3 linked regions of the Homo sapiens genome follow. The protein of the gene in region 1 purifies or fractionates together with the protein of each later gene. This does not show direct contact. Each region holds a gene or a part of one and is shown in the gene's direction. Other genes may lie near its edges.

Region 1 (8,225 bases):
GAGGGTCTTCTGCCCAGAGGTGGTCACTGAAGCCAACAAGACACTGAGGGTCTCACCAAGGTGGGAGAAGGCAGACAGAGAAGAGGGTGAGGGACAGGCCAGCGGGGAATGCATCTGTGCAAGGAGTGAGAGGAAGCAGAAGGGCTGAGATGGAGCCATCCAGAGGAGGAGCTAACAGGGGAGCTGGAAGCCACCCTGTGGGAACAGGGAAGAGGGAACTCCAGGAGAAGTCTTGGTGAGGGGAGCAATCGCTGCCAGGTGAGGTGTAAAATCATCCATCTCTTTTGAAAAGCTACAGGTGCCATGCCTTAGAAATGTTCAGAGCAGCAGTTCCCCTATTTGAAATCTCTCTTAAGAAGAGCCGGTCTGGCATTCTCTGCTCTACCACCTCTAGAGGCTCCCATTGCTTTCAGACTCACTGACCAGCCACGAGGTCCTGCCTCTCTCCCTGCCTTCCTGCTCTTACCTGGCTCATGCTCTGCCAGACTCCTTGCCATTCCCTCAATGCCTTGCTTGCACGTTGCCACTGCGTGCCTTGGCACACGAACTCCACCTGTCTGAGCCTCTGTCTGTCACCTTTGCTCATGGCACCTGCACCTTCCACCTTCAATTTGAGCAGGACCTCTTCTGAGAAAGCCTCTGCAGCTAGCCCCTCCACACGGTGCCTTCCATATTGCCTGGTAACAGCTCGTGAACTCTGTGTCTCCACTATTGACCAAGAGCTTTCAGTGAGCAGGGGACAGTGGGAGCTTCATAAATGTTTGATGTGCACCTGTGTGCATGACTGAACGTTTTTGCTTACAGAAATAGCTAGGACCATGGAGACGATGATATGGATGATGTTATTTTTATCTCTATGTGCTAGATGCCATCCTCAGAGTTTCATGTGCCGCCTCTCATTTAATCTGGATAAACAACTCTGTGTGTTAGATGATCTCACACTTTTAGAAATGGCTCAGGTCAGGTAAGTTGCTAAGGTAACATACAAGTGATGGAGCCGGAGTTGAAAACCTATGTTCTTAGTGTCTCTCACTACCACCACCTTGGTTCAACCGCCTTTATTATCTTCCTCTTCTTCAAGGGATCTGACCTTTTCCCCGCACACAGTGGGCTTGTGAGAAGTTCATCCACTTTCTACCTACCTCTCCTGACACCTGCTTATTTGTATTTTTCCTTATAATAACTAAATTGGAACCAATCCCAGTGTCCAGCAAGAGGGGTAAAGTTAAGTAAATTATGGAAGATTCACATGGTAAAACAGCATGAAGCCATTAAAAGTACTATTTCTGAAGAGTTCATAACATGAAAACATGGTTATGTGAAAAATGGGGCACAACAGTTTATATACTGTATGAAGATAAATATAAAATATGCGGCCGGGTGCGGTGGCTCACGCCTGTAATCCCAGCACTTTGGGAGGCCGAGGCGGGCGGATCACGAGGTCAGGAGGTCGAGACCATCCTGGCTAACACGGTGAAACCCCGTCTCTACTAAAAATACAAAAAAATTAGCCAGGCGTGGTGGCAGGCGCCTGTAGTCCCAGCTACTCAGGAGGCTGAGGCAGGAGAATGGCGTGAACCCGGGAGGCGAAGCTTGCAGTGAGCCGAGATCGCGCCGCTGCACTCCAGCCTGGGCGACAGAGCGAGACCCTGTCTCAAAAAAAAAAAAAAAAAAAAAAAAACATAAAATATGCAAACAAAGAAAAAAGACCACACATATCACTGCCTAAAGATTGGACGGTCTTTCTTTCTAGTAGCTGCAGAGAAGTCAACAAGGATGAAGGCTGGGGATGGGTTGTTAGGTTTGGCCGCTAGTTTTGGTCCCTGGCGTCGTTTCTGTTTGGGTAGAACTGTGAAGGGGAAAGGGAAAGTCTGACATGACCCGTGAAAGGGAGGAAACCAGCAGAGGACTGCAGTTTGAAGACATAAGAAAGGCACCAGGCATGGGTTAACCTCAGAAAGGAGTGAGGGCCTGAGGCCACAGTGGCAGGAGTTGAAGGCACAGAGATACTGACAGAGAAGGAAGAAAGCCCAGAGAGCTTGACAGCTGCTGAGCAGGAAGGGTGGGTAGGACAGACGGCTTGAGGAGAGTGACAGTGCCACCAACCATTTCTCTGACAGCATCATTCCAGACCCTCAGCATCCAGGCCACCTTCCTCTGGGTGAATTTTCACACCTTGATGCCCATTTTAGTGGCACTATTCTCTAGCCTTGATCTGCTCAGCCATGAGTACGGTGCAACTTCTTGTGAGCATCCCTCAGTGTATCCTGGCATTATGTTAGTGCTTTAAGCAGAGCTGGTACATGCTCTGCCCCTGGTGGGTCAAATCAAGTCCTGGTCCTGCCCCTTACTAACTGGGTGACACCAGGCAAGTTACTTAACCTGAGTTTCCACACCAGTATAATGGACTGAATCATGCTTACCAGCTGAGGAGGTCACTATGAGGATTAATGGCGTGTAAAATCCTTAGCACAGCACCTGACACATAATGCTTAATAAAGATTACTCAAATACTGATGCTATTATAATACAGTTGATTTTTTTTACCTAAATACAGACTTTACATTTATCCCTATAAAATTTTCTGTTTTGTTTAGTGCCCAGCGTTTCTGTAGCTTGTAAAAACCTTTTGAATCTTGATCATCTTTAGCTAATCAATCATTTCATCTGCTTGTTTGATACATGTGTTTTGTTTTTTCATCTACGATACTGGTGAAAGTGTTGAATGAAAGGGGAGGCGGTAGAGCTCTGTGGCATGCCTCTGGAGACCTTTTTTTTTTTTTTTTCCTAAAGGTTGCTCTTGCTCATTAATTAGAACTCAGGTTATGACTGTGTAGTGACAGGTTCACTACAGTCATTCCACCATCTGTTTCTTTCACTTGTGCAAGAGGAACTCACAAATATCTTCAAAGTTCTGCTGAAACTCAGATGTGCAAGGTCAAAAGAAGTGTCTTGACTAGCAGTCCAGGGCCCCTGTCTAAAATGAGGTCAAAGTTCAGCGTAACGATTTTTTTTTTAATTTGGCTAATTCTAAATAGTTTTTAGACTTCTATATACCATTAACAACTCTGGAAAATTAAATGTATCCATTGTATTATGTATGGGTAGTTCAAAGAGAAAAAAAGGGATGAAAAGACTGAAATACTTAGTCTTTAATTGGTGCAACTGAACCACTGGGAATTTGAATTTTTGTTCAAAAGTTGTTTATGGAGTGCTAGTTATGGGAAGCCTTTGCATTGGATTCCAAGCACAAAGACCAGGCTCTTAAAGTTCAAATGCCAGTGGGGGAGATGGGAGGCAGCCTAGATACCTGGGGGAGGAGCAGAGAGCGCTCAAGGGAAGCATCCAGCTCTGCTAGATGGCAAGTGGCAAGGAGAGTGCCAAGATGAGGAGTGTCTCCAGCTACTCCAGACTGTTCAGAGCTGTTTGCTCTTGGATGGGGAGAGGATGGGTGGGGCTAGGGTGGAAGGAACAGAAGTACACAGCAGAAAGCCAAAGAAGGCCTGCCATGTTCCAGAAAGTGCTAGTGGTTTTGGGTGGCCACAGGCAGAGGGTGGATTGAAAAGAGGGTGAGGCCTGAGCAGGAAATTGGCCAGAATGCTGGTTGCCCAGGCCTGGCTCTTCCTCAAAACCCATGTGGGGGTTGATTTTCAAAGCTTTTCTCTTGCCGGGCCCCACCCACAGGAATTCCAATCAAGTACGGATGAGAGAGTCTGTCTGCCCAAAGAAACCTCGTGCTCAGCCTGGCTGAGGAAGCCTCCGGGGGCTGCTGCACCAGTCAAGAGAGGATTGGTGGGGGTAGGGTTGGGGGCTGACTTATGGCCATGGCAAGGGGGCTGGTAGGCAGGGGCGGACAGGAGAGGGCTTTTAAAAGGCAGTCTTTTCTAGCACCTGGTGACTGTTGGGCTGTTGGGGTGGAGACACAGAGGGGTGCCCAGCACTGTCCCAGGCTTCTGACATGAGGGGCAAGAGAGCTAGGAAGGAGGAGCGTCGGCATCACTGGAGTTTGGAATTTATGAGTCTATGAGGACATTTAGGGGCTGACATCTTGGAGGCAATTGGAAATGTGGTGTAGAGCTCCAGTGCACGATCTGGGTGGGAGGTCTCAGATGCACAGGTGCCAGGCAGTTGCAGAAGCTGTGGAATTGGGTGGAACTCTCCAGAAACAGCCTATCATGAGAAGAGGCTGGGAAGGACCTTGGGAGACACGGACATGGGGGGCAGTGGGAGGGGCAGGGGAGCCAGGGGAGGGGCCCATGAGGAGCGAATGAAGAGGAGGAGGAAGAGAGGGGCATGGTGTGACAATCTGGCCTGGCTGACCTGGAGTGTGGACACTCCCAGTCCAGAAAGCGGTTCTAGGAGGGAAACACATGTCGTCCCATCTTGTCCCATCTTCCATATAAGTCTTCAAGTCATTTCTGTGGCTCATGCCAGAAGATCCCTCAGAAAAGCAGGCGGCGTGAGAAGATGCTGTTCTCATCTCACCTGTGTGCCTTGGGGGGGTGGCTGGCATGGTCTTGAGCTCATAAGGTTCAGTGGTCCCGAGCCTCTGCCTCAGCTTGGCGCCTTGGCATGGGGAGGGCACTCAGGGAAGTTGGGAGGTGGCCCTCTCTTTCCTGGCTCCGCTGAAGGGCTTGGCGAGCTGTTCCATCCCAGTCCACAGACTCCTGCCTCATGGGAAGGCCCCATATTCTGGAGGTCAGTTGACAGCTGGTTACATTGTTTGCATGAACTGCGGACTGCATCTGTTTGGATGAATGCTGTAAAGTTAACTCTTCCTCCAGTTTGAAGCATTGCTTTGTGGGTAGAGGAATGTGAGGGAGGAGGGGACAGGAATGAATGGGTGGAACTTACCCGGAGCTGAGTAAACTCACCGTTGTTTACTTACCAGGCTGGGTTTCAGCTGCAGGGCACTCAATGCCAGCAGAAGCACCAGGATCGCAGGGTGTGGGCGGCCTGGGGTACTGGGCTGAGGAGTCACTGGTCTTCAGAAGAGAAGCCGTCAGTGGTTACGTATGTCCTAATACTGCCTGCCATTTAATACCACTTTTAGCTGAAACCAATCCTAAATTATAGTTAGGAGAGCACATGGACTCTCAAGTAGATGGTTGCAGTTCAGAGTTCAGGATTACTTTCAGGGCCAGATTCGCTTAACTAATACGGAGTTCAAACTAGGAGTCACAGGCCCTAGCTCTGCTGGAGTCCTGGTCCTTTGAGACTCTGTCTGCTGTTTGGTGAGTTATTTCTCTCTGGGCTTCAGTTAGGGGCTCTGTTAAACAAAAGGATTGATTGGCCTAGTGACTTTCACATTACTTCTCAGAGCCCAGGCTTCCTTGGAAGGCCCCCAGGGCTCTCAGCTCCAGCTCCCATCAGAACACCTCCACTTTCACCAGCTTCGCTTAGCCAGCTGTTACAACTTAATTTTTTTTTTTTTTTGAGACGGAGTTTCACGCATGTCACCCAGGCTGCAGTGCAATGGCAAGATCTTGCCTCACAGAAACCTCCGCCTCTCGGGTTCAAGCGATTCTCCTGCCTCAGCCTCCCAAGTAGCTGGGGTTAGAGGCATGCGCCACCACGCCCAGCTACTTTTGTATTTTTAGTAGAGACGGGGTTTCTCCATGTTGGTCAGGCTATTCTCAATCTCCCAATCTCAGGTGATCCACCCACCTCGGCCTCCCAAAGTGCTGGGATTACACACGTGAGCCACCGCGCCTGGCCAGAACTTCCTTTTGAAGTAGGCTTTCTGCAGCTCTAAAAAGGAGTTTGACAAACAACTTGGAGTAGATAATCAGTTCTGAGACTCTGTAGTGGCCAATTCTTGATAAATTTGGTAATTCATGTACAATTCTTTTGGGGGGCATATATTTTGATATTTGCCTTTAAAGATTAACATTCATTGTTCTGATTATGAAAGTAATAGGTACATATTGTAGAAAATACATCCAACTCTCAGGTGTCTCTTATGAGGATCCCATTCCTAATCCATTTTAATGAAGTAAGCTTCATGACGTTAGTAATAAATATTTTCAATAGCAGACCTGGGGTAGGAGCTGTGTAGCCCGTGGCAACAAGGATGGGTGTGGGTGTGTGTGCCTGAGACAGGCGTGTCTGTGTGTTTCTTTATGAGGCCTCCATCGTCCTATCTGCACAAGAGTGTGTGTCACTGCCTGCCAGGTCATTCTTCCATTCTCGTTCTCTCAAAACTTACACATCCATGTCACGTTTCGGCAAGCTTCTGCTTTTTGCTAGCTGTTAAGGATTAAAGCAACTCAAATGATTTAGGGGTAGTCATGATTGATATCCATCCAGTGACTTTTCTGTTTTATTGATTAAGTAAGGCGATTTATATTAACTAATAGATAGGTTCCTCATCCAGCATTGTCCTAGTCTAGTACTTGTAACTGTGAACTTTGTTTGTTTGTTTGTTTGTTTGTTAGTTTTTCTTTTTTTTTTTTCTTTTTTCTTTTTTTTTTTTATTGATCATTCTTGGGTGTTTCTCGCAGAGGGGGATTTGGCAGGGTCACAGGACAATAGTGGAGGGAAGGTCAGCAGATAAACAAGTGAACAGAGGTCTCTGGTTTTCCTAGGCAGAGGACCCTGCGGCCTTCCTCAGTGTTTGTGTCCCTGGGTACTTGAGATTAGGGAGTGGTGATGACTCTCAACGAGCATGCTGCCTTCAAGCATTTGTTTAACAAAGCACATCTTGCACCGCCCTTAATCCATTTAACCCTGAGTGGACACAGCACATGTTTCAGAGAGCACAGGGTTGGGGGCAAGGTCACAGATCAACAGGATCCCAAGGAAGAAGAATTTTTCTTAGTACAGCACAAAATGAAAAGTCTCCCATGTCTACCTCTTTCTACACAGACACGGCAACCATCCGATTTCTCAATCTTTTCCCCACCTTTCCCCCCTTTCTATTCCACAAAACTGCCATTGTCATCATGGCCCGTTCTCAATGAGCTGTTGGGCACACCTCCCAGACGGGGTGGTGGCCGGGCAGAGGGGCTCCTCACTTCCCAGTAGGGGCGGCCGGGCAGAGGCGCCCCTCACCTCCCGGACGGGGCGGCTGGCCGGGCGGGGGGCTGACCCCCCCCACCTCCCTCCCGGACGGGGCGGCTGGCCGGGCGGGGGGCTGACCCCCACCTCCCTCCCAGACGAGGCGGCTGGCCTGGCGGGGGCTGACCCCCCACCTCCCTCCCGGACGGGGCGGCTGCCGGGCGGAGACACTCTTCTCCTCCCAGACGGGGTGGCTGCCGGGCGGAGGGACTCCTCACTTCTCAGAGGGTGCGGCTGCCGGGCGGAGGGGCTCCTCACTTCTCAGACGGGGCGGCCGGGCAGAGACGCTCCTCACATCCCAGACGGGGCGGCAGGGCAGAGGCGCTCCCCACATCTCAGACGATGGGCGGCTGGGCAGAGACGCTCCTTACTTCCCAGATGGGATGGCGGCCGGGAAGAGGCGCTCCTCACTTCCTAGATGGGATGGCGGCCAGACAGAGATGCTCCTCACTTCCCAGATGGGGTGGCGGCCGGGCAGAGGCTGCAATCTCGGCACTTTGGGAGGCCAAGGCAGGCGGCTGGGAGGTGGAGGTTGTAGCGAGCCGAGATCACGCCACTGCACTCCAGCCTGGGCACCATTGAGCACTGAGTGAACGACACTCCGTCTGCAATCCCAGCAACTCGGGAAGCCGAGGCTGGCGGATCACTCGTGGTTCGGAGCTGGAGACCAGCCCGGCCAACACAGCGAAACTCCGTCTCCACCAAAATAATATGAAAACCAGTCAGGCGTGGCGGCGCGCCACTCGGCAGGCTGAGGCAGGAGAATCAGGCAGGGAGGTTGCAGTGAGCCGAGATGGCAGCAGTACAGTCCAGCTTCAGCTCTGCATCAGAGGGAGACCGTGGAAAGAGAGGGAGAGGACGGAGAGGAGGGAGAGGAGGGAGAGGAGGGAGACGGGAGAGGGAGAGGAGGGAGAGGGAGAGGGAGAGGGAGAGGAGGGAGAGGAGGGAGAGGGAGAGCGAGAGCCTGTTTGTTTTTTTTTCATTTGAGACAGAGTTTCACTCTTGTCTCCCAGGCTGGAGTGCAGTGGTGCGATCTCGGCTCACTGCAACCTCCACCTCCTGGGTTCAAGCGATTATCCTGCCTCAGCCTCCTGAGTAGTTGGGATTACAGGCATGCACCACCACGCCCAGCTAATTTTTGTGTTTTTAGTAGAGACAGGGTTTCA
Region 2 (7,612 bases), on another chromosome or scaffold:
TTGGCAGGGATCATGAGTGACTTAGACCAGGGTATTGCAGCAGGCTCAAAAAATGAGATCTGCCAGTGACCCAGCCTGTCTGAGCCTCGTTTTCTCCTCATACAATGGAGACAACAATAGCCCCATTTCATAGGGGCTGCTTGTGAGAATTAAGTGAGATGATTCAGGGCAAGCCCTCAGCCCAGAGCCTGATATTGCAATGATAGTATTCGTTGTGGTGAGGGGGAAAGGCAGGAGCTAACAGGAGCTGAAGAAGTTCTCCACTTCTTCAGGCTGTAGGCTGAAGAAGGCTCTCAACAGAGCCAGCAACTCTTTCTAAAAGCTTGGATGAGAAAGGAAGGGAGAGGGAAGGTAGCAGGAACTGAGGACAAGGAACAGAAGGGAGGCAGGCATTCTAGGATAAAGAGTATGGCAAGTAGTGAGAAGAACCCAGGAGAGGGGAGAGAGTTAAAGGGGAATCTAAAAGGTGTGCCCATAATGAGGATTGGGGACCTTCCTTAGTGACTTGCAGAATGTCACAGACTCTGCAGGTGGCCTTCATCCCCTGGAATGAGCAAAAAAAGGTAAAACGAAGCAGATCCTGGCTCAGACCCCTATGTCTCTGGCAGACCAGTATCTGCGATGGAGGATGGTGATGGGCTGTGAAGAGTGTTTTGACCCTGCTCTGGGGCCTCATAACCTTGGCTTATTTATTTCTGAAATGACATCATCTATCGATGACTCCTGCTGAGCCCGGTCGTAATGGCCTTTTCCAGTCAATGTTTTGACTTTTCAGTCTTACTAATGGACCAGCCAGGCTGCCAACATTTCTAAAGAGGCCAGTTTACTTTTCCCTTAAAGCCAGAACACCAGATAAATCAATTATTGGGCTGCTAGGAGCCATTATCAGTTTAAAACCACAGGCCTGTTTCTATGGAAAAGCATGAACCAGATAGCACAATTCCGGGCCATTTCCTCTCTTTTGTTTTGTTTTGTAAAATCTTCCTTTGGCTAATCATGATAGAACCTAATTCTCTTTGCTCTTAATGAGAGAATGAGCTCATTGGAGTCAACTTAGGACACGGTCTGGGAGGTTTTCTTTCGTGTTAGGTGTTGCTGGGTTTTTGTCTGATCTGAAAAACTAAACAAACTCAAGCATGCCTTTTGTTTCTCCTTCTCTTATGTCCTTTTGGTTTTCTTTCAGAGAAAAAAATGATTTGTGAAAGGGTTGGACATTACCATCTGTGAGGAGGAAAGAGGGAGGGAGAGGGAGACAAGGGCTTGCGTCCGTCCACGCATGTCCATCCCTGTCTCAGTTCATGTTCTCAGGGGCCCCAGCCTCAGGCCCCACTCACTCTGGGGCTTCAAGGGTGGTGACCCCAGGGCCGTTTCTAGCGATGATTCTGGAGGGTGATGAGTTGTGACCACTGCGTTGTTGCTCTCCATGCCCAAAGGAATGAAGGAAAGCAGAACTGCCTCTGGGCATCCTTCAGCCTCCTTCATAGACTCATCGCTGCTGCCCATCGCTTTGCTGTTGGTGCCTTGGTGCCACTCCTACCCCTATTCTCTTTCCACCGCACACTCTCACAGTCTCATTCACTCCCACGACTCCAGTCACCTCCCAACTCCCTAATTCTTGCATCAAGCTGGACTGTGCTCCTCATCTATAGACATCTCTGCCTCCTGATTCCTTTCTCTTCACCACCCCATTCATTTGCCCACCAAGTCCTGTCAATGCTACCTTCCTTAATTTCTCTTACATCCATTTCTATCGCCACATCCAGTACCCCAGTAAGGACTTCCTCTCTCCCCTAAGCTGCTCTCAGAGCCTCTTAAAGGTATTTCTGCCTCAAGTCATTCCTTCTTCCATGCTGCTCTTAAAAGATCTTCACCTGCGTCAATTGTCTCCCTTCAGGGACTCCCCATTTCCTAAGGGATAAAGACCAGATTCATTAGCCTCTAAGACCGGGCCTCAAGCTACTTCTCCAAAATCATCTCTAGGCACTCCTCCAAATTCTCTTTACCTTCTGGCCATGGCAAAAGCATGCTGTGCCTTCATGCCTCCCTGCCTTTCCCCTGCTGTTCTTTCGGCCTTCAGTGCTGTTCTCCCTCTTCTCAGTCTGTGAACTTGTAATCACCCTTAAAAGCAAAGTTCTTCATTGATTTACCTGTACCCCCACAGCCCCCTGTGCCAACTCAGAGCACCAGCCAGAGTGTGTTCTAAATGGAACCACCCAATGATGTATCTCTGTCTCTGGCTAGACTAAAAGCTCCCTGAGGACGAGGTTTCTGACTCATTTATTTCTGCTTCCCCATGTGCAGCTCAGAGCTTAATGTGTGACATAGTACAGGCACTTCAGGTTTTAATAAATGGCTGACCACCGAATGAATGAATGAATGCATGAAATAAATGAATGAAGGCTCTGTGATAACCAGGACAGTCACACAACACCAACCAGCATTTACAGCATGTTCTCCTACCCGACCAAATCATCAGCTCTATGAGGGCAGAGACCACACCTATTCTGCTCCCCACTGCCAGCTCTCCAGCTCCTATCAGCCCCATCATGATACGTAGCTAGTGTGAATCCAAGAGCTCATTTGAAATTCACAGTAACCCCATGAGGGAGGAACAGCAAGTATTGTTACCTACCTTTTGTAATGGGACAGTGAACCCTAGTAGGAATTGTCCCAGGTCATCCAATTCCAGAAAACTGAAGTGCTCTCCAGGGTTTGACAAACTTGAGAAATGAGTCTTCTTGTTTTATATCCGTGCTTCTCTAACTTTAATGTGCATTGAAATTACTTGGGATCTTTTCAGAAATGCAGATTCTGGTTCAGTAGGTATGAGATGGGGCTTGAGAGTCTGAGTTTCTAAAAAGCTCCTTGCTTCTAATAAGCTCTAATAAGTTGATTAGAAAATAAACTTAATAATTCCTAATAAGCTCTAATAAACATCTAGTCAGGTGGTGTTGACTAGTATCTACAAACCACCACATTTTGAACACCAAGGTGAGTGCTAGTTACCACAAAGCTTCCTCCTGGCCATTGCATTAAGATAGTGGATTTTTAAATCTACAAATGAATTCATTTGTGCCTTGGATCAAAATCAAGGGCTCTTTCTGGTCAGCAAACTTCTTGCAAGTTTGGATCTATGAGCACAAGATGGGTGCCTGGGCAGTGCTGGGATGGGAACCTGAGACACCTGAGACCCTGAGACATCAAAACCACTCAGAAGTGTGCAAAGTGAAGGTAAGAGAGAGGGAGACGTGAGGACAGACTTCCTCCATGCAAACCAAGAGAGATTTAAAAATTCAGAATGGATAGCAACATTGCACGCATTTGCTTATTATGGTTTTACATTGTATTCCACTTACAGCATTAAAAAGGCTTGAGATGGCTTAAAAAATAAACTACATGACCAATGCAACTAGTAAGAACAGAAATTCTAGAAAGACAGGCAGAAACCCTGAAGATTAAGATCACGAAACTCCTGGAGAATCTGATTAGAGCTTATGAATTCTTGCTCCACAAAAATGAATATATTCATATACACAACAATTTGCATATCATTTCAGTGGGTGTGTGATTCCCCTGAAGCCTATTCAAAAGTCCGGGTTAAGAGCACCCGATACAGAGAATAAAGAGAGAAAATTATGCCAGTGCCCTGGCTGAAGATGACAACTGTATTTGGACACTCAAATTGGCTCTGAGATGACTCATGGCAGCCAAGGGGAAAGGGGGGGACAAGATGAATGGGAGGACTCTTGGTGTCTGATAGTAGAAGGAAGAACATCAATCAGTCTTTCAGGAGAGGGAACTATTTTCTTAACCCCAATCCTCAGTATATTGTCAAGACAGGCCACTAGACAGAGGGCATAGTAGTTAAGGCGGACTCCGGATCAGTCTGCACAAGGCCAGGGAACCTAGGAGCAATGAAGGGCAGACTCAAATCCTTCATTAGTCCTTTGGGGGGCCTTAAATAGCAATTGACACATAATGAAACACAATCTATCTTCCTGATTCACACACACACACACACACACACACACACACACACACACACACACACAGACTCTGGAGACCACCTTGCTGGATTCAAATCCAAGGTCTACTAGTTACTGGCTCTGTAATCTCAGGTAACTTTTAACATTTCTTTCTTTCTTTTTTTTTTGAGACAGAGTCTCGCTCTGTCACCCAGGCTGGAGGGCAGTGGGGCGATCTCAGCTCACTGCAACCTCCGCCTCCCAGGTTCAAGCAATTCTCCTATCTCAGCCTCCCGAGTAGCTGGGACTACAGGTGCACACCACCACACCTGGCAAATTTTTGTATTTTTTAGTAGAGATGGGGTTTCGCCATGTTGGTCAGGCTGGTCTCGAACTCCTGACCTCAGGTGATCCACCCACCTCGGCCTCCCACAGTGCTGGAATTACAGGTGCGAGCCACCGTACCCAGCCAACTTTTAACATTTCTGTGCCTGGTGTCCCCATCTATAAACTGGGGTTGTTGTGGGGATGAAATTAGTTCTTATATGTAAAATGCTTAAGACGTGCCTGGGATATTATGTAAGCGTGAGCTGTTATATTATGGGAAGGTGGCAGCATGGAGTACTGGTAATGAGTACTGATGGCCTGCCTGGATGTAAATCCTGGCTCTACCACTTATTAGCTTTGTGACCTTGGTCAGTGTACTTACTGGGTTAAACAGGGTCCCCCCCAAAAGTCATGCCCACCTAGCACCCCAGAATGTGACCTTTCTCTGGAAATATGGTCTTTACAAATGTAATTAATGAAGTTAAAATGAGGTCACACTGGATTAGGGTACGTCCTAACTACCCTATGACTGGTGTCTTAAGAAGAAGAGTGGACACACGCCCTTAAAAAGGCTTGAGATGGCTTAAAATAAACCTATATAGGCAGCATAACTAGTAAGAACAGATGATGATAGAGTCAGAGATTGGAGTGATGTGGCTGCAAACCAAGGACTGTCAGGGATGGCCAGCAGACACCAGAAGGTAGGAATGAGGCATGGAACAGATTCCCCGTCAAAGCCTCCAGATGGAATCAACCCTGCTGACACCTCGATTTTGGACTTCTGGTCCTCTGAACTGAGACAGAGTAAATCTCTGTTGTTTTAAGCCATCCAGTTTGTGGTCATTTATTATGGCAGCCCTATAAATCTAACATAGTCTGCACTTCTTCATCTGTAAAATGGGGATAATAAAAGTATCTGCTTCACAATTATTAAGACTGCAAGAAATAATCCATGTAAAGAGCTTAGCATTGTGCCTGGTATGCAGTAAGAACAAAACAAAGCTTCTATTATAAGGTACAGTGACAAGTGGCCAACAGTAGCCTCAAGGATGGTGTTAATAGTAGTCTGTTGTATGTCTCTAATTTATTTACTCAATGTCTTATTGAATTTTTATGCCGTTTTGGGGGTTTTGGGTTTTTCTTCGCTAATAGAGGTTTTTTTTTTTGTTTTTTGTTTTTTTTTTAGACAAGGTCTCACTCTTTCACCCAGGCTGGAGTGCAGTGGCTCACTGCAACCTCCACCTTCTGGGCTCAAGTGGTCCTCCCCCAAACCCCAGAAGCTGGGACCACAGGTGCATGCCACCATGCCCAGCTAATTTTTTGTATTTTTAGGCGAGACGGGGTTTCACCATGTTGCCCAGGCTGGTCTTGAACTGAAAAAGGGTATACCAATGTAACTTCTCTTCTGTGTGAGGACACTGGTCTCCCCACATCTTGTCAACACTGGGAATTCTCAGACTTTTAAATCTCTGTCAATCTGATAGAACTGATATCTCCTTCCACAATTTGCTTTTTTATAATTATAAGTGAGTTTTGTTATTATTTATATGTGTATTAGCCATTAGTATTTCCTTTTGTGTGAACTGTCTATTCCTCTCCTCTTTCCACATTTTCTGGCCTGTTCTGTTTTTTTATTGGAGGAACTCTTTGTCTATTAAACAAATCAGCCTTTTGTTTAATATGAAGCAAATATATTTTCCCCCAGCTTGCCGTTTGCTTTTTGGTATTGTTCGTATTAATTTTCATATTGGTTTTTTGGAAAATACAAAAACATGTTTCATAAAGCTCTATCTTACATTAACACCTGCTATGAGGCTATGTGATGAAGTTCATGTTTGTAAAATGGAGAATGAGGATAGGAATGAATTCCACAAGCTTTCCTACAAGTTAGCTTTTTTTTTTTGACACTGAGTCTCACTCTGTTGCCCAGGCAAGAGTACAGTGACACAGTCTCGGCTCACTGCAACCTCCACTGCCCAGGTTCAAGCGATTCTTTTGCCTCATCCTCCCGAGTAGCTGGAATTACAGGTGCCCACCACCACGCCTGGCTAATTTTTGTATTTTTAGTAGAGATGGGGTTTCACCATGTTGGCCAGGCTGGTCTCGAACTCCTGACCTCAGGGGATCCACCCACGTCAGCCTCCCAAAGTGCTGGGATTACAGGCCTGAGCCACCACACCCGGTCTACAGGTTAGCTTTTATTCTACAAGTGCTTTTGACTTACGGCTATCAAAGCTAATAATAATGCTAGGCATTTATTCATTCATTCATTCATTCAACGAATATGTCTTCAGCACTGGACAGGTGCAGGGCTTTGTGAAGGACCATGGGAGACAGAGATGTTTGTCCTCAGGTAGCTTTTAGTCTTGTGGGAGTAGGGGTGCCTGAAGATAATGCAATAACTCCCAAAGAACTCTGATGGCCTCTCTTGTTTGTACTACAATCGTTAGCTTCCTAGAACTCTCTTCTGCTGGTGTGGAGGGAAATGAAATGGAAGGGGCAGAGCGTGGGGAGAGCTAAGTGTGGCCTGAACCAGAAAAGTTGCAGAGACATAGGAGGAGTGGAGTGCAGCATGGTTTGAGGGCAGGTGGGCAGGCCAGCTGAGACAGGGAGATGTCTTCAGACTCTTTTCCTGGAACCCTGTTGCTTACAGATGATTGCTGTGGTGACTCAGACACCATGATGACCCCAAGAGATGCAAAATGAAAACATGCACCCGCGCGCGCACACACACACACAGACACACACACACACACACACACACACAGGCTTTTCCAATTTAAACCACTTGACAACTTTGACGTTTAGAGCATCGAGCATGGCTCATTGTGTTCTGGGATGAAGCTCATAGCAACTGCAGAAAGTGATGGAGTCAAACACTATGTTTAGTGTGTTTGTTTTTTTAGAAGGTACTTTCCCATATGACTAAGAGAATGAAATCAGCCAGTGAAAATAACTGCAAATGAGCCAGAAAACAAGTCTGTTAACAATAGCTGGTCTCTAAGTCCCCATCCTCCTCCATTCAGGGGCTCCACGCACATCTGTCATAATAGAACTAGGCCTTAAAGGGCCTTAAATCCTGTATTGTCAACTCCCCAATAACCACCATCAATCAAGACATCAACCCTCTCTGGAAGACCTCATCTAGGGCTCTGCCATCGCTGCTCACAGCCTATAGAGACAGGTGCTCACTACTTCCCGGCTTAGCCCAGTGTACCCCTGGGCAGTTTTTGTTTGTTTGCTTGTTTGTTTGTTTGTTTTTTGTGTCTCATTCTGTCACCCAGGCTGGAGTACAGTGGTGCAAACAGGACTCACTGCAG
Region 3 (7,612 bases), on another chromosome or scaffold:
GACACTGTCTCAAAAAAAAAAAAAAAAAAAGATACTTATTTTTGTCCTTTAAACAAGGATAGGTAGGGGGTTCTTGTTATCCAGGAAAGTCTTTTTGTTGCAAATAGCTTTCTGCCTAGATGAAGCTTGACTGTTAGTTATGCCCTTCTAATGATATCCACAAAGAGTAAGCCCCTGCTGAGACACTATTTCTCCCCAGATCAAGGAATTTCTAACTTTTTGACAAAACATAGCATTGGGAGGTATTACATATGTTGGATAGCTCTGGAATTTGACCTAATTCAAATCCTAGCTCCTCCTCTTACTAGGTGTGTGAACATGGATAAGTTATTGTTTAATAACTGCCTCAAGGCAAACTTCAGTTTCCTCAGCTGTAAAATAGGGTTAGTCGTAGTCCTCATCTCATAAGAGTTTTTGTAAAGATTAAATGTGGTGGCCTAGCGCAGTGGCTCATGACTGTAATCCCAGTACTTTTGGGAGACCGAGGTGGGTGGATCACAAGGTCAGGAGTTCGAGACCAGCCTGGCCAACATGGTGAAACCTCGTCTCTACTAAAAATACAAAAGTTAGCCGGGCGTGGTTGCGGGTGCCTGTAATCCCAGCTACTTGGGAGTCTGAGGCAGGAGAATCACTTAAAGCGGGGAATCGGAGGTTGCAGTGAGCCGAGATCGTGCCATTGCACTCCAGCCTGGGCGACAAGAACAAGACTCTGTCTCAAAAAAAAGGATTAAATGAGGGAATATAAGTAATAGTGAAGTGTTTGCACAGTGTCTAACACATAGTAAAGGCTTAATAAATAATAGCTCCTACAGCTAAGATTACTGAGTAAGTGAGATGAAGTAAGTGAAGATTACTGTTCTTCTCTTTTCCTTTTCTGCTTTATCCCTCAAAACATTCTGTTTTGTTCACATATCTCCTGGTAGCATAGACTAGATGTCTTTGTTTGGGGTTTTTTTGTGTTTTTTTTTTTTTTTTGAGACAGAGTCTTACTCTGTCACCCAGGCTGGAATGCAGTGGCATGATCTTGGCTCACTGCAACCTCCGCCTCCTGGGTTCAAGCAATTCTCCTGCCTCAGCCTCCCAAGTAGCTGGGATTACAGATGCCTGCCACTACACCTGGCTAATTTTTTTTGTATTTTTAGTAGAGATGGGGTTTCGCCGTGTTGGCCAGGCTGGTTTCGAACTCCTGACCTCAAGTGATCCGCCCGCCTTGGCCTCCCAAAGTGCTAGGATTACAGGCATAAACCACCGCGCCCGGCCTTGTTTCAGCTATTATAACACAATACCTTAGACTGGTATACCTTAGCAGAAATACCTTAGCAGAAATTTATTCCTCATACTTCTGGAGACTAAGAAGTCCAAGATCAAGGTGCTGTTAGATTCAGTGACTGGTGAGTTCTGTTTCTCATAGGTGACACCTTCTGCATTCTCACGTGACAGAAGGGGTGAACACTGTCCTCATGAGGTAGAAGAGTGGCAAGAGAGCTTGATTGAGCCTCTTTTAGAACGGCACTAATCCCTTGAAGGCTTCATCCTCATGACCTAATCACCTCCCAAAGGCCCCTCCTCTTAATATTATCCCATTGCATATTGGTCCAACATAAGAATTTTGGGAAGGTACCAACATTAAAATCATAGCACTAGATAAATGGCATTACCTGGACTATTGTTCTGGCATTATGTCTCCAATAGCAGCTCCTTCGTTTTATTTTCTTCATAGCACAAGTATAATCTTTCTAAAACATTCCTTTTCCCGTGTGTCACCTATAATAGGATAACATCTGCATTCTTTTTTTTCCCTAAGATGGGGATCTTGCTATATTGCCCAGGCTGGTCTTAAACTTCTGGCCTCAAGTGATCCTCCCGTCTTAGCCTCCTGAGTAGTCTGAATTCTTAACATGGTTTATAAGGTGCTTTGTTCTTCACAGTCTGTGTTTCCACTTCATAGCAATGTCTCCTGCCACACTCCTTTTTTACACATATTCATATGCAGTGAGTTCTTTGTTCTTCTCCAAATTAAACCAGTTATACTCCATTCTGTTATACTTTTTTATCTCCTTGGTGTAGATGTCATTCTCTACCTGTCTACTTAGGTGACAACTACTGTTTTCAAGATCCTATTCAAATGCACAAAAGGATACCCTCATCCTATTGTGTATGACCAATTAGTAGCCTTGTCAAGGTGACTAAACCTATCTTAAGTTGCCAAAACTTAACCTAAAATGTCATTGACTTGTTAGTCTCTTCTCCTTTTTGCTAATTGTTTGCATAATTGTAGCACTTCACTTTACCTTACATATTCAGAACTACTTTTATCTTACTTTTTAAAAATATCTGATTTACCAATAAAATATTTGTTTTTCTGTCCTGTCTTTAACCCTCAATGTGACTTTTCCTGTACCTGGTCAGTTCTGCTTACCAACATTGATGATAATGTATATGGAGAAATGTGCCAAATATTAGGTATGAGGATCCATTAAAATTCCTTGGTTTTCACAGAGAAAAACTAATGTTTAATAACTTTAATTATTTTAATATTGTTAAGAGTGGGATCTCATTTACCTTTGTATTCACAATGCCTAGCACAGTGCTTAGAATGTGAAAAGCATGTAATAAATGTTTCTTGAACTTAATAATCAGTTTTCCTTGCTAAGGAAAAAGCGTTCTTAAACTTAAGTGTTCTGTGGATTAATTAACCACCATTGTGAATTACCACTGCTTATATTAATTATTTGTTCAGAGTTGGTAAAATGGCTCATCAACTTAAAGATAGCTTAAAGCATGGATTTGTGTCCTAAATAACAGGTTTCTCTATGAACTTCCCCTAAAAAGGCTCAAACATTGTCTCACACAGGTTCACTATTATGAAGATGGCAATGTTCAGTTGGTTAGTCATAAAGATGTACAGGATTCACTAACTGTTTCGGTGAGTATGGAATATTTAGTGTCTGTCTTACTCATGTCTCGTTTTTCTTTAAAAAATTAGTTTTGATCCTGAGTGCTGATTCTGCCAGTAGAAATTCAGTTTGCTTTTAATGTTTTGATTTTGGCCACTTCTGTTAGTGCCTCTTATCACCAACCAGCATATATTAGTTCACAGTTTTTGACTCACAATATTGATTATGACTTTAGACAAATGTCCTTCTTAGTCGCTCTCTCAATTGTAATAGTTACTCAAGGACAGCAATACCTTCATTCAATAAATACCAAGAGCAAGGAAAGTTTACCAAACTGCATCCTATAGGGCTGCATTTATATCATTAGAGAAACAACATTTTTAGGAGTATTCAATTAGAATGTTTTGTGGTTTGGTGGTGGTGGTCTATTTGAGACAGGAATTCACTCTGTTGCCTAGGCTGGAGTGCAAGGAAGGACATGATCACAGCTCACTGCAGCCTTGAGCTCCCAGGCTCAAGCGATCCTCCCACCTCAGCCTCCCAAGTAGCTGGGACCACAGGTGCATGCCACCATGCCCAGCTAATTTTTTTATTTTTGGTAGAGATGAGGTTTCTATGTTGCTGAGGCTGGTCTCAAACTCCTAGACTGAAGTGATCCCCCTGCCTCAGCCTCCCAAAGTACTGGGATTACAGGTGTGAGCCACCATGCCTGGCCACTATTGTGTTCTATACCTTGAAAGAAGAGACATGATTTGTTCTTGCATTTCTTTGATAGTCTCATTACTTCTTTAAGTTATTAGAAGTTATTGAGTACCCCCAAAGAGTTTTTGTTTATGTGTTAGATCTATCAATGTTTACCTCACTAAAAATTAAAGCTGAGAAGTGTGGGCCGGGAGTGGTGGCTCACACCTGTAATCCCAGCACTTTGGGAGGTCGAGGCAGGTGAAAGCTTGAGCTCAGGAGTTCAAGACCAGCCTGAGCAACACGGTGAAACCCTGTCTCTACAAAAAAAATATAAAAATCAGCTGAGTTCCTGTAGTCCCAGCTACTTGGGAGGCTGTGGTGGGAGGATCACCTCAGCCCAGGAAGGTTGAGGCTGCAGTGAGCCAAGATCGTGCCACTGCACTTCAGCCTGGGTGACAGAATGAAACCCTGTCTCAAAAAGAAAGAAAGAAAGAAAACTAAGAAGTGTTAAAACTATTCGTTAATTAAAAATAATGATAACAAACCCATTACTTGTTAATAAGTAACATCTTTGTGAATATATTTTCCAAATCAAAAGAAAAAAATAGTGGGAAGAATGGCATTAGTCTGTGTCTTCACAAATTGTGTATTAAAAGATGGCGGACTTTATTGTGATATTAGTTGTTTTTTGCTTGTTTGTTTGTTTTTTTGAGATGAAGTTTCGCTCTTGTTGCCCAGGCTGGAGCACTGTCTTGGCTCACTGCAACCACCACCTCCCAGGTTCAAGTGATTCTCCTGCCTCAGGCTCCCGAGTAGCTGGGATTACAGGTGTCTGCCACCATGCCCAGCTAATTTTTGTATTTTTAGTAGAGACAGGGTTTCACCATGTTGACCAGGCTTGTCTTGAACTCCTGACCTCACCTGCCTCGGCCTCCCAAAGTGCTGGGATTACAGACATGAGCCACTGTACCTGGCCTCTGCTTCATACCTTTCATTATCCCTGAAAGTGATAAAGTCATCACACATCATGTAGTTTCTAGGAAATTACATCATACACACATTACAGAGTGAAAGTGAAACAGGCAAATAACTTTGTGTTAGTATTATTATGAAAGTAGAAAATAGTTTTGACCTCATAGTCTGTCTTAGGACTGCAGCTCTAGATATTAAATCCTACCCTCTTCCCTTTAATTCTGTTGTACTTAATGGTAACAGGAAGAGGGAGATTCATTTCATTTTAGACTTGAACCACGTGGTACAAAATGTGATTGGCTAGTTTAACATCATAAGTGGCAAATAAAGGCATATGTGAGCTTATGTATATGACTGATGTGTCCAAGGGCATTGTTCATACCATTTTAAACCAGAAATATTTTCAAGGCATCAAGGTTTCAAGACTTGATGATGTCTTTTGGGCGTACTGTGGTAGAGTGGAAACAGCATGGGTTTTTTTGGTGAAGACCTAATTTCAGATCCCATCTTTATCATTCAAAAGCTGTATAATTCTGGTCAAGTTGCTTAAGAGGATTCTGTTTTCTCATCTGCAAAATGGGGGTTATGATTATAACATAGTGTCTTCCATAGAGTTGTTGTGAGAATCAAAGGAGGGTAGTGGGCATGGGAACACTTGGAAAACTAGAAATTGTCATACAAATGTTAGTTAAGATGGACTTACTTTCAGGATCTTACTGCTTACACATTAAAAAAAAATCTGATTTTCCCCTTCTTCCTTCCTTCATTAGAATGAAGCCCAAACTGCCAAGGAGTTTATTAAAATCATAGAGAATGCAGAAAATGAGTATCAGGTAAGAAGATTTGGAGTTAATTTTCCTAGATCTACTATCTTATTATTTCGCTGTTAGCATATTTTGTTAGGCCTTGTGTCCTTTAATGTAAATATACATGCTCTTCAGTTTTACTAAATGTGGGAGACTTTGCAGACCTTCCAAGTTGGCATTCTGCTTACAGTCAGGGTTTGAGGATTGCTTGGGACTGTAGCCCTCATTTTAGAAATAATATAGGTGAACTTCTTGACCTACTTCAGAGATTGGAGAGGAGCTCATTGAAAATAATATATCCTGTCTATCCTTCACAGGGGACTCAAGCATATCCATTGACTATAGCATTACTTTTCTGTTCACAACCAGCCCCATTTCTGTTCAAGCAACTCATCTTCAATTATCTATTGCAGACAGCAATTAGTGAAAACTATCAAACAATGTCAGATACCACATTCAAGGCCTTGCGCCGGCAGCTTCCAGTTACCCGCACCAAAATCGACTGGAACAAGATACTCAGCTACAAGATTGGCAAAGAAATGCAGAATGCTTAAAGGCTGAATGTAGGATTCTTCAGTATGTGGAAAGACAAGGATTCAACGTGTGGTCATATGATAAATAAGTGATTTATAAACAAGAGTGATATTTTGCTAGGGCTTTCAAAGTTAACCGGTTTTCTAGCCTCATGGAATACTGTTGAACCTATAGCGTTGTCTTGATTCTTTTGTGTTCTCTGCCTTGTAATTTTCTGTTACTGCTATATCTACGTGTAAATCTTTTTTTCTTTTTTTTTTTTTTTTTTTGGTTAATTCTGCCACATTTAATGTTGGTGAGAGAGTGATCTATCCTAATGACATTTTACTGTTTAAAAAAGTTTCCTAGCCATGAAGCCCTGCTACTGATTTAGACAAGGTATTATGGTCATTACTTTGTACCCCTATCCTTCCAAGCACTTCTGGTACTTCAGTCGTTTTTACTGATCCACCAACACCTAAAGAGGCTATGCTACAGTCTCTAGCTAAATGGAAGACACATTCATCCTTCTCCCTCTGACTGCTTTGATCATCATTTATTGCATCTCATAACTAATTTTCTAAAGTTTGGATTGGGACTTTTCAGGTCCTTTTTGGAGGGCAAAGGAAGTGCCAGCTTCTCTGGGGAACTTGTTTTTAAATCCAAAGACTTGAACCACATTCCCTGCACATGAACATGTTTGCTTTTATCCCTTCTCTCATTGTCTCCTTCCCATCTTAGTACCATTGTAGTTATAAACATCTGCATTTTTTAGAAGCATTTTACCCATTTATTTTTTTAAACATTCAAGAACTGCTGACGTACTGTGGATGTAGAGTATAAAACTTGAAAAATGCAGATGTTGAAGGAATAATAGGTATCTTGTGCTTTAATACTTTATGGCAGGATTGTACTATAAGCAAATGAATTAAACAGCTATGTAAATCATAAAGAAAAACTAAAAATGAACCAAAGTGAAAGGATAACTTCCAGGCAGTATCTTTCTATTGTAACCTGTTATTTAAGGAAATACTAGTGATTTCTTCTAAATAGGATGTAAAACTTCTTTCAAATTACTCTTCCTCAGTCCTGCCTGCCAAGAACTCAAGTGTAACTGTGATAAAATAACCTTTCCCAGGTATATTGGCAGGTATGTGTGTAATCTCAGAATACACAGGTGACATAGATATGATATGACAACTGGTAATGGTGGATTCATTTACATTGTTTACACTTCTATGACCAGGCCTTAAGGGAAGGTCAGTTTTTTAAAAAACCAAGTAGTGTCTTCCTACCTATCTCCAGATACATGTCAAAAAAAGAAAGGTGTTTGTGCTTCCGTTTTGTTTCTGCTCAGTAATATAGTCAAGCAAGTTTGTTCCAGGTGACCCATTGAGCTGTGTATGCATTTTTGTTTATTTCAATAAAATATATTTGTATTATTTGTCCTTCATACTATCCATCCATACCACACTATCTTCTGTATCAGGTAGTCTAATAGAAATATACCTGTTTTGTTCTAAAATTGTCTGAGTCTCTCCTTTTTGATTCATCGCTTCAGCCTTGGTTCTCAAGGTAAGATATTCAGCTGTATTTGATCTTATGTTGAGAATGTTTAGGGTTTCTAAAATTGGTTTCTACCTTCAACTATTTATAGACTCTGAATATCCACAGATTTGCAAAGAACAGCTTTTTAAAGCGTGAGCAATGTCTATGGATCATACTGCTCTTCACTCAAAG

The links. Proteins that work in one complex are often made in the same cells at the same time.
Region 2: the proteins of MYO5C (region 1) and TMOD1 purify together in Homo sapiens (affinity purification with mass spectrometry; 4 studies listed by BioGRID and IntAct, with this or other methods). This does not show direct contact.
Region 3: the proteins of MYO5C (region 1) and CAPZA1 purify together in Homo sapiens (affinity purification with mass spectrometry; 2 studies listed by BioGRID and IntAct, with this or other methods). This does not show direct contact.

What each region holds. Positions count from the first base shown.
Region 1 is NC_000015.10:52,285,188-52,293,412, reverse strand, and holds part of MYO5C (unconventional myosin-Vc), read left to right. Parts: intron 1-8,225. UniProt on the Homo sapiens protein: May be involved in transferrin trafficking. Likely to power actin-based membrane trafficking in many physiologically crucial tissues.
Region 2 is NC_000009.12:97,504,054-97,511,665, forward strand, and holds part of TMOD1 (tropomodulin-1), read left to right. Parts: intron 1-7,612. UniProt on the Homo sapiens protein: Blocks the elongation and depolymerization of the actin filaments at the pointed end. The Tmod/TM complex contributes to the formation of the short actin protofilament, which in turn defines the geometry of the membrane skeleton.
Region 3 is NC_000001.11:112,664,220-112,671,831, forward strand, and holds the end of CAPZA1 (F-actin-capping protein subunit alpha-1), read left to right. Parts: intron 1-2,854; coding exon 2,855-2,926; intron 2,927-5,323; coding exon 5,324-5,386; intron 5,387-5,676; coding exon of another isoform or gene 5,677-5,772; coding exon 5,773-5,913; 3' UTR 5,914-7,397; downstream 7,398-7,612. UniProt on the Homo sapiens protein: F-actin-capping proteins bind in a Ca(2+)-independent manner to the fast growing ends of actin filaments (barbed end) thereby blocking the exchange of subunits at these ends.